2 linked regions of the Homo sapiens genome follow. The protein of the gene in region 1 interacts with the protein of each later gene in a biochemical or structural test. Each region holds a gene or a part of one and is shown in the gene's direction. Other genes may lie near its edges.

Region 1 (5,304 bases):
GGTGAGAGTTGGAGAGCAGCCAGCTTTCCTCTGTTGATGATAAATTTAATCTAAACCAAAAGTCTCATGGCAACTCCAGGTTGGCCAGAGAAAAGCTGTTGCACATTTACTTTTGCCACTTGCCTTTTAAAGAGTCTGCAGACTTGGGATCTAATCCCACATCCCTGACTATCTGTGTCAGGTTGGCAAGGCATCTAACCTCAGTGTCTGGTGCCCTCAGTGATGAACTGTGGCTAGTGGTTCTTGTCCTACTTCCTGCAGGCGCTTGCCGCACCCAGTGGGACAGCAGCAAGGCAGATACTCCCAAAAAACAGGTAGCTCTTGGCACGAGTGTTTTGCTCTTCTTTTCCTTCCTTACCTTCTACTTGTGTTTCTCCTATCATCCTCCTTTGGAAAAGTATTGGATTTTTCTTCTATCTATAGCACGCCTCCCATTCCCAACACTTCAGCGTCTGGCCCTTTCGTGGGGTCCCTCTCACAAACAGCCTGCTGACACTGCAGGTCCCTTGGAACAGGGACCATTCCTTTTCCTCTCAGTACCTGGGCAGCTCCCTCTCAACTCCAACTTATCTCTCCACACGATGGGCAGAGATTTGGTGATTTCGGGTTTCATTCTTCAGACAGTGCCCCTGTAGAACTCCTCCACAGTGTCCCTTGATGCAGTGTGGGTGTGGGGAGGGGCCAAGATCTTGACCCTCCTGACCAGGAGAAGGAGCTGCTGTGACTCTACAGCCCCGGTCTCACAGCCACTGGGTTTATCATCTGCCTTTTGGGATCAGCAAAAGGGTTTCCTAAAGAGGTGCCGCTGCTCTTGAGAACAGAAACCTAGTGAAGATGGCACTTTTTGATGTTGAGAATATTAGGATGGCTTGGAGCTGCTGTAAGCCAGGGTAGGTTTTAGGTTTTATGAATGCTGTTTGTTTATATTAAATACAAAAATAAAAAAATAACTTGTGCTGATTTTTATGCTAATCAAGATGGCTTTGTGGATGCAGTTAAAGGTCTGCAAACCACATAAGTGAAGGAAGGAATAAATGGAACAATTATGCTAACAAATGACCCAGTCTTGGGGAATAGATGCTATGTATCTTGTTACCAGCGAATGGGCAGAGTTGTGTTCCTGTTTGAGATTGCAGAAGGAGCTGTGTGAAGAGGGTGAGGTGATGCTGACGGTTCTGCTTCCCCCTAGGTGGTGGCCTACCACTACTGCCAGGCTGACAACACGTACACTTGCCTGGTGCCCGAGTTTGTGCACAGCATCGCAGCTTTGCTCTGCCGGTCCCATCAGCTGGCCGCCTACAGAGACCTTCTGATAAAGGAGCCCCAACTACAGAGCATGCTGAGCCTCCGATCCTGTGTGCAGGACCCGGTGGCAGCTTTCAAGAGGGGAGTGCTGGAGCCACTCACAAACCTGAGAAATGGTACTTCGCAGCAGCTACCCACAGCCCCATCTCAGTAGTGGTACAGCAGACACAGGTGGTCCCCAGAAGGCAGGTGGTCAGCCGGGCTGGGGTAGAAGTGAGGTGGAGCATGGAGAGGATGTCGAAGCCTCCGTGCCCATCCACTCCTCTTTCTCAGAACCAGCCCCATGAGGTCGCTCCTACACCACCCCTATGGTATAGTGTTAAAAGAAGCACCCTGATAAGAATGAATGTGATGACTGAGCAGTTCCAAAGTAGTCAGCTTGTAAGTGTGGGCTGTTTAGGTGACTTGCACCACAGAAGACTGTTGCGTATTTTGCACTCCTAAGTATCTGAGGGAATAAGTGGATTATTTGGAGGAATTTTCCAGCATATATATTTGTCAGGGCCTCTGCTCAGTTGAATTGAAACCTTAAAGTGACTTCTAAAGGTTTCCATTTTAATTGTTTGTCCCCGACAAGGTAATGGACATCAGTGACCTGATGGGCCCTTCAGTTTCCCATCCTCTCTGCCCTGGACTCCTCACCTTTTGAGCTTGTTTACTTGCCCACATGGCACCTCTGCTGGAAGGTGCTAGAGGGATAGAAAACAGATATGTCATCATTTCTTCTCTATTGCCTGGGCAGAAAATCAGCACTAATAAATAGAAAACCAGATTCAGGCTCGCAGAGAAGAGCCCTGTTGGAGGAGTCGGTAGCGTGGAGCTCTCACGCTGTGTTGGTTGTATGGCTTGGCCAGGGCAGTTTGCCCTGGGCTGGGGGCAGCGAGGGGGTCAGTTTCCCTTCCCTGGAATCCACTGGGGAGCTCTCATGGGGGGACCTAGTGACCTTTCCGGATTGGGCCTCTGTATGTGTTCATTATCTTTGTGTAGCCCACCCCAATGACAGTGGTTTATGAAGAGCTAACTGTGTTATATACACGAGTGAGATTCTGCTAACATGTGTCATGCAATATGTTTGTTTTGTGAGAATTGGTTTTCTTTTGGCTCTGTGCTCCAGTTTTCATTATAAATTTAATAGAAAATATGCTTCTGTGAAAACTGTTTCTTGTGCCATATGTAAACCTTTTTAGTTTCTAACACTAAACTGGGCACTAAAATACACTGGGTGTTGCTGTCTTAGAGAAATGTATAATTTCTTAATTTGAAAAAATTATTTTATCCTGTAGAGCAGAAAATTCCTGAAGAAGAATACATTATTTTGATAGATGGCTTAAATGAAGCTGAGTTTCATAAACCTGATTATGGAGATACGCTTTCTTCATTTATTACCAAAATTATTTCTAAATTTCCTGCCTGGTTGAAGTTGATTGTGACTGTAAGAGCAAATTTTCAGGTAACAAAGAATTCTCAAATCTTTCTCCAAGTCCCCATTCCAATTTTACAGTGATAAATGTTAATAACGTAAAACTGTTGTAAACCATTCAGCTGCTTGAATTGGAAACTATGTTAAGAATTTGAAAAACTAGTCCAGAGAGCCAGACTTGGGTGAAACTCTGACCTTTTTAGCCCCAGGTATATTTATCAAGATGTCAGGTAAGTTTCCTGTTGGCATCGAATTGCACGTTCACTTTTCAAATGGTGGCATCTAGCCCTGGTTACCGTCATGGAGTGTGTGGGGCCAAGAGGCCTGCCAGAGTTTAAAGCTACTCCTGCTGGTAGTTATTTGCAAGGGTTTACTGTGGGGCTTTGTGTTTTTTTGAAGGGAAAAATGAAGGTGAAAGATTTTTTTTTTTTTTTTTTTTGAGATAGAGTCTCGCTCTGTCACCCAGGATGGAGTGCAGTGGCATGATCTCGGCTCAATGCAGCCTCCGCCTCCCTGGTTCCAGTGATTCTCCTGCCTTGGCCTCCGGAGTAGCTGGGATTACAGGCATCTGCCACCATGCCCAGCTAATTTTTGTATTTTTAGTAGAGACGGATTTTCACCATGTTGGCCAGGCTGGTCTCCAACTCCTGACCTCAGGTGATCCACCCACCTTGGCCTCCCAAAGTGCTGGGATTACAGGCATGAGCCACTGTGCCTGGCTGAAGGTGAAACATTTTTAAGGCCTATTCCCAGAGGTCTATTTTTTCACAAAACTTAAGCATGAGGTAACATTTGCAGCGAGGGGTAGGGTGATTTTTTTTTTCTCCTCCATCTTCTTCCTCACTTAAACCCTGAAATTGTGTCTTAACCATTGACTCCTTCTATACCTATCCTTTTTCAGTGAAGACTTTTAGACATTAGGTTTTGATTTTTGCCCTTTTATGATATTTATTTAAAAACAGCATTTGGAATTTTTTCATTATAAAAACTGAAATTAGACCTCAGTTGAACTTGATGCGTGTTTTTTGGACATTCAGTTTGTATATTTTTCAGTCATTTTTTACATAGTAAGCACAATTTGTCCATCAGTAGATCATAGGAACCAGGAATCTTACGTTCTTCTTCCCAGCTGTGTAAGTTTTCAGAGCTTCAGATAGCATCCATGTAAAATGGGAATAATTGTATTCTGCCCTCTTTATCTACATTGTTATATTAAATGAGCACGTGCATTTAAATACTTCAGAAACAATAGTGGGAAGTCTTTTTAAAAAGGCAAAACTCTTCTTTGCTTTTAGGTGTCAGATGTGCTTAATCTTTGGAATGGGGAAGAGATGGGAAGGGCACATGAGGCTTCTGGGAGCTGAGGATGTTTTGTTTCTGGGTGCTGGTTACATAGGTATATTTGACTTAGTGAAAATTAGTGACACTGTGCAATTGTCATTTGTACACAAATCATATGTTCATTGTTAGACTTCAATTTAAAAGTTTACTTTAAAAAAGCAATTCATAAAATAACGTGCTATACCAAAGTAGGCAGCTTTGTTAAGATGCGCTGTCGTTGAGACACAGCCCAGGGGCAGACTCAGATTTCCTGATTGGGTTACACAGCCCCAGTGTTTGCTGCATAAAGAAGGATGTCTTTTATCTTGGCGTCTGGCCGTGTTCTTAGATGTGCAGTGTTGGTTGGTGTTTGTCCTTGTTATATAAGCAGTTTCACAGTGTAAGGATTATGGGTATCAGGTCACCTGCAGAGTCTCACTGCCCTTACTGGCCCTGGCCTCGTTGCCGCTGTCTGCACAGGGCTCTTACTCTGCTTGCTAGGCTCAGGGTCCTTGGATGAGGGCCTCAGGATAGCACTTACTGATTCCATCTCCCATCAGGATTTCTTTCACATAAGCTTTTTATCTTCACCTTATCCTATTACACGTTTTAATACAAAACAATGAGTCCCTGTAATCCATGAAAATCCTCCTTGAAACAAAACTAGTGAATCTGGTTTAAAATGCTGTTAAAATAAAAAAGGAATCTCTTTAGAGTGACACTGTGGGTTTTTGTTTTCTCCCCCAGGAAATCATAAGTGCGCTGCCATTTGTCAAGCTTTCCTTAGATGACTTCCCAGACAACAAAGACATCCACAGTGACCTGCACGCCTACGTCCAGCACAGGGTGCACAGCAGCCAGGACATCCTCAGCAACATCTCCCTGAATGGCAAGGCCGATGCCACACTCATTGGAAAAGTGAGCAGCCACCTGGTGCTGCGGAGCCTCGGCTCCTACCTGTACCTCAAGCTCACCCTGGACCTTTTCCAGAGGGGCCACTTGGTCATTAAGAGTGCCAGCTACAAGGTGGTGCCCGTGTCTCTCTCTGAGCTCTATTTGCTTCAGTGCAACATGAAGTTCATGACCCAGTCCGCCTTTGAGAGGGCACTTCCGATTCTCAACGTGGCCCTCGCATCCCTCCACCCCATGACAGACGAGCAGATCTTTCAGGCTATTAATGCTGGCCACATCCAGGGGGAGCAGGGATGGGAAGACTTTCAGCAGAGGATGGACGCCCTCTCCTGCTTCCTCATTAAGAG
Region 2 (5,304 bases), on another chromosome or scaffold:
ACCTTTCAGGTGTCAGGTTTCAGGTCATGTTTGCTCTTTGAAATCATCTGGCTTGATTATGTGTATTAGTTGTTTATCTTCTATCCCCTCCACTAGAATGTAAATTCCAGAAGAAACTTGCTGTCTTATTCAGTGCTGCATGCCCAGGGCTTGGAAGAGTACCTGGCATATAGTAGGAGTTGATTGATTATTATTTTGTCAGTCGAGAGAATGAATGGAGAAAATGTGGTCCATGGCCCAAAAGAAGTTAAGACCCTATCCTAGATTCAGGCCAGAGACCAGATGGAGAAAGAGTCTGTGTCTATCTAATACCAGTAATGTCGTACCTCTGGCCGCTTACCATGTAAATATTGATTGTGTATCTACCATGTGTTGGACACTAGGCTAGTGCTTGCACAGCAGGTGAAAGATACTAGAGTTTGGGAAGTCAGGAGGAGCTAAGGTCTGTTCTACAACCTTATTAGATGAAGAGGAGAGGGAATTGTGTTCAGGGCAGAGGGAGAAGCATTTCTCCAAAAGTAGGAGTCTTAATCATGTCTGATGTAGGTTGAGTGTGGCCAGAAAAGGGGCTGTTAAGTATAGAGGGCCTGGATTATGAAAATCCAGCAGATCCATTGAGAGTTTAAGCAGCAAGGTGTTGTGACCAAGTTAACATTTTAGAAGGATCACTGGTATGGAGGTTGGATTGGAGAGGGGAAAGCCTAAAGGTATAGAGACTAGTTAGGAAGCTATTGTAGGCTGGGCATGGTGGTTCATGCCTGTAATCTCAGCACTTTGGGAGGCTGAGGTGGGAGGATTGCTTGAGGCCAGGAGTTGAAGACCAACCTGGCCAACATAGCAAGACCCCGTCTCTGTTTTTCTTAATTAAAAGAAAAGTCCAGACGTAGACATAGTGGCTCACGCCTGTAATGCCAGCACTTTGGGAGGCCAAGGTGGGCAGATTGCTTGAGGTCAAGAGTTTGGGATTAGGCCAGGCGCAGTGGCTCACGCCTGTAATCCCAGCACTTTGGGAGGCCGAGGTGGGCGGATCACAAGGTCAGGAGATCAAGACCATCCTGGCTAACACAATGAAACCCCGTCTCTACTAAAAGTACAAAAATTAGCCGGGCATGGTGGCGGACGCCTGTAGTCCCAGCTACTCGGGAGGCTGAGGCAGGAGAATGGCATGAACCTAGGAGGCGGAGCTTGCTGTGAGCAGAGATCACGCCACTGCACTCCAGCCTGAGCGACAGAGCGAGACTCCATCTCAAAAAAAAAAAAGAGTTTGGGATTAGCCTGGCCAACATGGCAAAACCCCATCTCTACAAAAAGTACAAAAAAATTAGCTGGGTATGGTGGTGCGCGCCTGTAATCCCAGTTACTCAGGAGGCTGAGGCATGAGAATTGCTTGAGCCTGGGAGGTGGAGGTTGCAGTGAGCCCAGATCATGCCACTGCACTCCAGCCTGGATGACAGAGTAAGATGCCATCTCAAATAAAAATTAAAAACAAAGTTTAAAAAAAAAATAGAAGCTATTACCGTGATCCAGGTAAGAGATGTGAATAACTACAATGATGGAAAGAAGGCAGAGTTCTTAGAGATGGGAGTAGGAGAGATGAGGGAACTCCAGATTGGGAAGATGATGTTCAAGTTTCTGGCTTAGGCCACAGGGTGAGTGGCAATTCCCTTCACTGAGATGGGGCATCCTGGAAAAGGTGTTGCCTTTCTGTGTGGGTATCCTGGGCCCCTTAGGGGCCACTGGTGGCCTGGGACCTGGTAAACCTTCCCTGCACAAGCAGAATTGGTCAAGCAGGTTTTTAGGACATCTTTACCCTGCCTCAACTCTTGTCTGGCCCAGGGTCAACCGGATGCACATCAGTCCCAACAATCGAAACGCCATCCACCCTGGGGACCGCATCCTGGAGATCAATGGGACCCCCGTCCGCACACTTCGAGTGGAGGAGGTAGAGTGTGTGTCTAATCTGTCTTGTGAGGGTGGGACATGGAACAGATCCTCTGAGAAATCAGGCTGTAGCCTTTACCTTTTCCTACCCCCAGCCCATCTCTTTGTCTTAGCATTGAGCCTGTGACCACTGGTGACCTATTTCAGCGTAACAGGTTCCCAGGGTAGCAGGGATGGTTGATGGACGGGAGAGCTGACAGGATGCCAGGCAGAGGGCACTGTGAGGCCACTGGCAGCTAAAGGCCACCATTAGACAAGTTGAGCACTGGCCACACTGTGCCTGAGTCATCTGGGTTGGCCATGGGTGGCCTGGGATGGGGCAGCCTGTGGGAGCTTTATACTGCTCTTGGCCACAGGTGGAGGATGCAATTAGCCAGACGAGCCAGACACTTCAGCTGTTGATTGAACATGACCCCGTCTCCCAACGCCTGGACCAGCTGCGGCTGGAGGCCCGGCTCGCTCCTCACATGCAGAATGCCGGACACCCCCACGCCCTCAGCACCCTGGACACCAAGGAGAATCTGGAGGGGACACTGAGGAGACGTTCCCTAAGGTGCCACCTCCCACCCTGGCTCTGTTCTGTCCTATGTCTGTCTCTCGGATGAAGCTGAGCTGGCTTTCAGAAGCCTGCAGAGTTAGGAAAGGAACCAGCTGGCCAGGGACAGACTATGAGGATTGTGCTGACCCAGCTGCCCCTGTGGGGATCACAGTTTACAGCCAGAGCCTGTGCGGACCCAGCTGTCTGCCAGGTTTCCTTAGAAACCTGAGAGTCAGTCTCTGTCCACTGAACTCCTAAGCTGGACAGGAGGCAGTGATGCTAAACCCTGAAGGGCAACATGGCCTATGGAGAAAGCATGGAGCTCAGAGCCTGGAGTAGGGGCACAGATAGGATTGAATAAATTGTGTAGAAAGACTTTGAAAACAATAAAGCAAAAGATGAATGAACGTTTTTTTTAGACTTGAGGGACCAACAACCCCCAAACCCCAGATTCTGCCAGGTCCATGGGGAAGGAGAAGTTGCCTTGAGTGGAAGCCCCAAGTAGGGAGACTTACAGAAAAGAAGTCAAGAGCACTGGCTCCCAGGCAGAAATACTGATACCCTACTGGGGCTTCAGGCTGAGCTCCTCCCTTCACAAATCACTTCATCTCTCTGAGCCTGTTTCTGCATCTGTGACATAAGATGGTAAGATAAAGGTGGCTGTCTCACCAATTATGTAAGGATTAAATGTGGAAAAGGACATAAAGTTGTATAGTGCTGCCATAGGGACAGTGTTCAGTAAACGTGACACATTCTTAGTATCACTAAGAATCAGGTTCTTGGCCAGGCACCGTGGCTCATGCCTGTAATCCCAACACTCTGGGAGGCCTAGGTCGGAGGATGGCTTGAACACAGGAGTTTGAGACCAGCCTGAGCAACATAGTGAGACACTGTCTCTACAAAAAAAAAATAATAATAATAATTGTTTTTAATTAGATGGGCAGGGCACTGTGGCTCACACCTGTAATCCCAGCACTTTGGGAGGCCAAGGCCGGAGGATTGCTTGAGGCCAGGAGTTCAGGAGCAGCCTGGGCCACATTCCTGTCTCTACAAAGAATAAAAAACTTAACTGGGCATGGTGGCACATGCCTGTAATCCCAGCTACTCAAGAGGCTGAGGAGGAGGATTGCCTGAGCCCAGGAGTTCAAGACTGCAGTGAGCCTTGATCACACCACTGTACTACAGCTTGGGCAACAGAGTGAGACCTTGTCTCCAAAAAAAAAAGTTTGTTTTTTTTTATCCACTCTCCTCACCAAACAAACTGAGTAAGTTAGAGCCCTCTCAGCTGGCATGTGTTGGAAACAGTGCCCTCTCATTAAAGTGCTGCCCTCACTCCCATTGCCTCTTGGCCTTGGTCAGTATGATGAAATTAGTGGGAGGCAGGGCAACAGAGGGCAGGGAAGAGCTAGAAATCCATGGCCTGGAAAAGGGAAGATTTGGGAGTGGCCAGGTATCTGTAGAGCCACCATGCAGAGGAGGGGGGCAGCTAGCCTTGTGTGCTCTGGTGGGCATGGTCAGCAGGAGGCAGAGCAAAAGGACAAGGGTAAGTAAACCTGTAGGTCGGGACAAGCCAAGAGCCATCCAGCGTCAGTCCTCTCTGGGTAGCCCAAGTAAAGCAGGAGCATACCCCAGAGAGAAAGTTCGCAGGGCTGTTCACCTGCAGTGCTGTGGACTTCAACCTTCTTGTTCCTTCTTCAGTAAGTGAAAATAACAGTCATTGACCATGACTATTATCGACCGCTTTTGAAAATGTAAACATAGTGACTTTATTGCTGTAAAAATCATACGTGTTTATCATCTTAAAATTCAGGAAACATGGACAGGTACAAAGATGTGCAAAATATCATCCAAAATCCCATTTGCTGGCCAGGCACGGTGGCTCACGCCTGTAATCCCAGCACATTGGGAGGCCGAGGCGGGCAAATCACTTGAGGTCAGGAGTTTGAGACCAGCCTGGCCAACATGGTGAAACCCTATCTCTACTAAAAATACAATAATTAGGCTGGGCGCAGTGGCTCACGCCTATAATCCCAGCACTTTGGGAGGCCGAGGTGGGCGAATCACAAGGTCAGGAGTTTGAGACTAGCCTGGCCAATATGGTGAAACCCCATCTCTACTAAAAATACAAAAATTAGGGCCGGGTGTGGTGGCTCACGCCTGTAATCCCAGCACTTAGGGAGGCCGAGACAGATGGATCGCGAGATCAGGAGTTCGAGACCAACCTAGCCAACATGGTGAAACCCCATCTCTACTAAAAAAATACAAAAATTATTCGGTTGTGGTGGCACACGCCTGTAATCCCAGCTACTTGGGAGGCTGAGGCAGGAGAATCTCTTGAACCTGGGAGGCAGAGGTTGCAGTGAGTGGAGATCCCGCCGTTGCACTCCAGCCTGGGCGACAGAGTGAGACTCCATCAAAAAAAAAAAAAAAAAAAAAAAAATTAGCCGGGCGTGGTGGCGTGCACCTATACTCCCAGCTACTTGGGAGGCTGAGGCAGGAGAATCGCTTGAACCTGGAAGGCGGAGGTCGCAGTGAGCCGAGATCGTGCCATTGCACTTCAGCCTGGGCGACAGAGCGAGACTCTGTCTCAAAAATAATAATAATAACAATAACTAGCCGGGCCTGGTGGCACATGCCTGTAGTCCCAGTTACTCAGGAGGCGGAGGCATGAGACTCAGGTGAACTAGGGAGACAGAGGTTGCAGTGAGCCAAGATCACACCACTGCACTCCAGCCTGGTTGACAGAGCGAGACTCTGTCTCAAAAAAAAAAAATCCCATTTGCTCATTTTTTGGATACTAGTATAACTATCACTCTAAACCAGTT

What was found. Proteins that work in one complex are often made in the same cells at the same time.
Region 2: the proteins of TANC1 (region 1) and LIMK2 interact in a test that uses a peptide from one of them, tested with the Homo sapiens proteins (one large-scale study listed by IntAct).

Annotation. Positions count from the first base shown.
Region 1 is NC_000002.12:159,173,764-159,179,067, forward strand, and holds part of TANC1 (protein TANC1), read left to right. Parts: intron 1-1,189; coding exon 1,190-1,421; intron 1,422-2,588; coding exon 2,589-2,755; intron 2,756-4,792; coding exon 4,793-5,304. UniProt on the Homo sapiens protein: May be a scaffold component in the postsynaptic density.
Region 2 is NC_000022.11:31,260,298-31,265,601, forward strand, and holds part of LIMK2 (LIM domain kinase 2), read left to right. Parts: intron 1-1,836; coding exon 1,837-1,942; intron 1,943-2,297; coding exon 2,298-2,494; intron 2,495-5,304. UniProt on the Homo sapiens protein: Serine/threonine-protein kinase that plays an essential role in the regulation of actin filament dynamics. Acts downstream of several Rho family GTPase signal transduction pathways.